Regions from separate parts of the Homo sapiens genome. Here region 1 is linked to region 2. The links come from fine-mapping of genetic effects on gene expression. Tissue or cell type: nucleus accumbens. Region 2 holds a variant in brackets; the other region holds the start of a gene. All regions are shown on one strand. Distances are between the middles of the regions.

Region 1 (2,765 bases), 920 kb before region 2:
TTTCTCTATAGCTCTACAGTATGTAAAAATCATCTATTTAATTATTTAATTTACATCTATCTAACTGGTCTGTCCTCTCACATTTAGAATATAAACTGTATCAGAGCAGAAACCTTCACCCTCTTAATTTAACCGCCATATTCCCGGTACCTACAACAGCGTCTGGCACATAGAAGGCATTTTTAAACATCCTTGCTGAGTGAACCAATATCCCAGAAACCTCTCACAGCTAGTTCATCTTACAGGAGAAACAGTATTAAAGAGTTAATTAAATGGCCAGGCGCGGTGGCTCACGCCTGTAATCCCAGCACATTGGGAGGCCGAGGCGGGCGGATCACTCGAGGTCAGGAGATCGACACCAGCCTGGCCAACATGGTGAAACCCCCTCTCTACTGAAAATACAAACATCAGCCAGGCGTGATGGTGGAAGCCTGTAATCCCAGCTACTCAGGAGGCTGAGGTGGGACAATCGCTTGAACCCGGGAGGCGGAGGTTGTAGTGAGCCAAGATCGCACCACTGCACAACAGCCTAGAAGACAGAGTGAGACCCTGTCTCAGAAAAAAATAAAAATAAAAATAAATAAATCTATAAGTAAATGACTCGCCAGTCAAAATAAACGGCAACTTTAGGGTTAAAGGCCCAATCTGGCTCCAAAGCTTGGGGTTTTAGTTACTACACTACATTGCTTCACTATATTTTACAATTTACTAGCTGCTTATAAGTATGAATTAAGGCTCAGAAGTCTAATTTTCCAGACTACTCGGAGGACTCTCGCCCCACTCCACTCCACAAAGATTCAGCTCAGCGACTCCTTCCTACTCTGACCTAGCCCCGCGTCCCGCTCTCAGTGGCTTGGGCAAGAGCGCCTGCGCGGTGAGCGGGTCCCATAAAACGCATTCTGGGATTGGTAGTCCATGTTCCTCCGGTCTCCAGCATTCAAAAGAAAAAGGGGGAAAAAAAACCATGCAAATTAGATATCTCTGAATTTCTTGCAAATTAAATAAGACGCAGATTCTGGCTCAGGAAAGTGATGCAAACGCGTCGTTTTCAAAGGAGAGACCCCAGCCTCGGGTCAGGCGCGGCGCAGACAGCGGCGCGGGGTCCTTGGCTGGGCGGGGCTTGCTCGCGGTGGCTTGTGGCTCCTTCCTGCGGTGCTTCTCTCTTTCGCTCAGGCCCGTGGCGCCGACAGGATGGGTGAGCTGTTGTGGCCGGTTTAAGGGCGCTGCAAGCGGGACTTGGGGTCTTGGGGACGGGCGGGCGGATGCGAATAGAGTAGGGCGGGGGATGCCATGGAGAGGCTCCATGGGGGAGGGCCGGGGAAGCGCCGCTCCAGGAGGCACGTGGTCCGGCGCGGAAGGGGCCCATGAGGCGTGGAGGCCGCCGAGGTCGGGGTACCGAGGGACGCAGGGAGGCCAGCGCTTCCTCCCGGGCATTCGAGCGGGGCCTCGTCCTTCGGGAGAACACATTCTCCGGAGCCCTCTTCGAACGTTTATTAGTCGGTTCAGGGCAACTTGAAGGCCAAATGTTTGGCCCACAGGCCAATAAATAGTACGAGAGCCAATCGGCTTAAGGGTTTATTCCAGGTGAGGCGAGTGTCTTAGAAGATGGGAAACACGTAGATGGCGTGTTTTTACGGAAGAACTAAAATATTTAATTTTTAGGCAAGTGTCGTGGACTTCGTACTGCTAGGAAGCTCCGTAGTCACCGACGAGACCAGAAGTGGCATGATAAACAGTATAAGAAAGCTCATTTGGGCACAGCCCTAAAGGCCAACCCTTTTGGAGGTGCTTCTCATGCAAAAGGAATCGTGCTGGAAAAAGTGTAAGTCCATTGCTCCCGTCAAGTTTTAGTTTATTATAGGAATTCGAGACATGAACTTACGAATTCTTGTTTTGAAAGTAATTGCAGGTTTTTGTGTAGTAGTATTCATTTGGGCATTGTGGGGTAAAATTGCAAAGCGTTTGTTCTATTTAAAAGTTGGTAAAATTAGTTTTTGGGAATTAGGTAGTTAAGGTTTTAATTTAACGTTGGCCTGGAAGGAATTGGAGAAGATACTAGCAATGATGAAGTAAAGGACACAAACACCTTTACTGTGGGAGTTGTTATAAGTAAATGGCACGTGTCAGCTATTGAACTTTATCGACTTGATAAAACTAAGGTGAAGAGAAGTGACTTGCATCAGAATTAATTGAGGTCATACACCTAAGATTGAGACATGAAACTGCCAGTATTTGACTGGTTTTGACTTTTTAAAATAATAATTTCATATAGTTCTATCATATTTGATGGTAGAGCCATTTTAACCCAGACTTTTTTTTTTTTTTTTTTTTTTTTTGAGACAGTCTAGCTCTGTCACCCAGGCTGGTGTGCAGTAGCGCAAGACTCCCTGCAACCTTAGCCTCCCAGGTTCAAGCATTTCTCCTGCCTCAGCCTCCCAGGTAGCTGGGATTACAGGCGCCCACTACCACACCAGCTAATATTTTGTATTTTCAGTAGTGATGGGGTTTCACCATGTTGACCAGGCTAGTCTCAAACTCCTGACCTCAGGTGATAATGCCTGCTTCGGCCTCCGAAAGTGCTGGAATTACAGGCGTGAGCCACTGTGTCCGGCCCAGACTTTCTAATTCTTACCTCAGATACCTTTTTTCTTTTTTCTTTTTTTTTTTTTGAGATAGGGTCCCTTGTCACACAGGCTGGCCATCTTGACGTTCTAGGCATAGATCCTCCCACGTCAGCCTCGCAAGTAGTTGGGACTACAGGCCCA
Region 2 (2,765 bases):
ACATAATTGATAAAAATAATTATTGAGGAAGAAGTTAATTATAAAAGAAAGAGATAATTCGTGTCAAATCTGTACTTTAGACACTGGGAAATTGTTGTCATGTTTTTATCTTGGAGGAATGGGGATCTCTGCTACCCTGAGCTCCCTTGCGAGGGTTCGTCTATTGGGAAGGGTTGCTAGGATGGTGACTGAAGCTGTCTTCACACCCCCCTCAAGGTAACAAGAGCCAGGTAAACATGGGTGGCTGCACCGGCTTCTTCTGGTGTTGTGCAAGTTGCACTAATAAGTGAAATCAGCAGCAGACAATTTGTCTGCACAACACTAACAGTACTTTGAATACTGGAGATAGTCTAAATTAGTGACAGGCACACATGACAGTCATTCAAATATAGAGATAAAACGATTGCAATTGACTTGAGTTTCAGTGTGTTACAAAGTTGGCCAGATTAGATCTACATCTACATGTCTAGTTCAAAGTTCAATTTCAAATTATAGATTTTTCTCAAAGTCTTCTTTTATCATCTGCTTTGTTTAATCTGCCCTAACTTATTCTACATCCTTTCACATAAAACAACTTTTAACCTAATTCCACTGATCTGATTTTGTTTTTGGAAATTTTACTAACTTCCATGCCAGCAAAGGTGCCAGAGAACTTAAAAGCAATTCATCTTAAAGAATGCAAGAGCCAGACTCTGACATTTAAAGCCGCTGTGTAGTATGTGATTTCTCCACCTGCTGCTCCTTAGATCAGATGGAGTTGGTTTTTGATAGGACATTGTGTGTTCTAAAAGAAGAGAACCAACCCATCTCTGTTCTTGTACCATGTTTTTAGAAAACCAGGGGTTTGTGTTGGTTATAAATATCAAACATAAAAGATTGGAATATTTTTCAAGATGTTGTATGATGGAAATGCATATTATTAGAACAGTGAGAACATTGAATCCAGATCATATCCTTTCGGAAGAAAAGAAAAGAGATGAGATTAGTTTTGTAAAAGCAGGATATTTCTGGAATGTGTATAAGCACGCACATCTCAGAAATACTACTGGATCATTATTTGCAAGCTTGACATATAGGGGAAAAACTTAAAATTTGAAAGCATTTTAATTTAATTTTTGAGTAAGAAAATCAGATCTTAAGAGCATTATCATGGTTAATTTTCTGGATATGCAGAAAGAAAACTAGGGCTAGCATGACCTCAATTCAGGTCAAAGTTCCTGATCTACAAATGTAGAGTGAATGTAAAGTTGTCAAAGCAGGTTGATGACACAGTACTTTAAGAACATCCAAAGTACACGTATTGAACTTGATCACTCAAAGCCAGCAGAAAGGGTGAGTTCTGTTTACTTAACCCAAACCAGAACTGCGAGCCTGAATTGCTCTCTGAACCTGGGAAAACCCTATTTTTTTCGTTGGTTGTAAATTAACTCCAAATAAGCAAACTTCTG[C/T]ACCAAAGTCATCTAACTCAATATATTTCTGCATACGTATCATAGCTGATGCTGGTGCACGTATAATCTCACCTAGCACCTCCCTCTACAGGTTCCAGTATATACTGTATATGTCTTCATAGGAAGTATGTGGTTTCTCTTTAAAGTTATCCCTCAGAAAAGAAGGAGCTGCTTTATATTTGAGTCTTTACAATGTCTCTCATAAGGCCTTCTCTTAATTTTTTATTTATAATTATCTAAAAACTATTTTTAAAGAGATAGTACATGCACAGGGTAAAAAATGCAAAACGCATAAAAAGGCATATAGTTAAAAAGTAAGTCTGCCTACCGTCTCACTTCCCACCTTCAGAGACCGTCACTATCACACACACTTCAATTTCTGTGGGTACACAGTAGGTGTATATATTTATGGGATACATGAAATACTGTGATACAAGCATACAAATGTGCAATAATCACATCATGTAAAATGGGGTATCCACTCCTTCAAGTGTGACAAACAATCCAATGATACTCGTTATTTTTAAATATATAATTAAATTATTATTGACTGTAGTCACCCTGTTGTGCTGTCAAACACTAGGTCTTATTCATTCTTTCTAACTATATTTTTGTACCCATTAACCATCCCCACCCTCCCACTACCCTTCCCAGCCTCTCATAAGCATGCTTCTGCTATCTCCATGAGTTCAATTGTTTTGATTTTTAGCTCCCACAAATAAGTGAAAACATGCAATGTTTGTCGTTTGTCTTTCTGTGCCTTATTTCACTTATAATGATCTCCAGTTCCATCCATGTTGTTGCGGATGACAGGATCTCATTCTTTTTTATGGCTGAATAGTATTCTGTTGTGTATATGTATCATATTTTCTTTATTCATTCATCTGTTGATAGACACTTAGGTTGCTTCCAAATTTTAGCTATTGTGAACAGGGCTGCAACAAACATGGGAATGCATATATCTCTTCAGTATCCTGATTTCCTTTCTTTTGGGTGTATACCCAGCAATGGGATTGCTGGATCTGATGATAGTTCTGTTTTTAGTCTTTTGAGGAACCTCCAAACTGTTCTTCATAGGGGTTGTACTAATTTACATTCCCACCAACAGTGTATGAAGGTTCCCTTTTCTCCACATCCTTACCAGCACTGGTTATTGCCTGTCTTTGGGATAAAAGGCATTTTAACTGAGGTGAGATGATACCTCATTGTAGTTTTGATTTGCATTTCTCTGATGATCAGTGATGTCGATACCTTTTTATATGCCTGTTTGCCATTTGCATGTCTTCTTTTGAGAAATGTCTATTCAAATCTTTGGCC

The links. PIP is the estimated chance that this variant, and not a neighbour inherited with it, causes the effect.
Region 1: RPS23 starts here. The variant in region 2 is fine-mapped to the expression of RPS23 in nucleus accumbens (GTEx, PIP 0.95).

What each region holds. Positions count from the first base shown.
Region 1 is chr5:82,276,750-82,279,514 of GRCh38, reverse strand. RPS23 (ribosomal protein S23) reads left to right here and starts at 1,161. Exons shown (of 4, transcript NM_001025.5): 1 at 1,161-1,195; 2 at 1,663-1,822. The coding sequence starts at 1,192. It also overlaps the pseudogene ATP6AP1L. RefSeq lists an enhancer at 841-1,170.
Region 2 is chr5:81,351,939-81,354,703 of GRCh38, reverse strand. The region is part of intron 5 of ACOT12 (acyl-CoA thioesterase 12); the gene reads left to right. Among named protein-coding and RNA genes, the nearest start is that of ACOT12, 41 kb to the left of the region's middle. The variant C/T (reference allele first, on the strand shown) is at 1,449.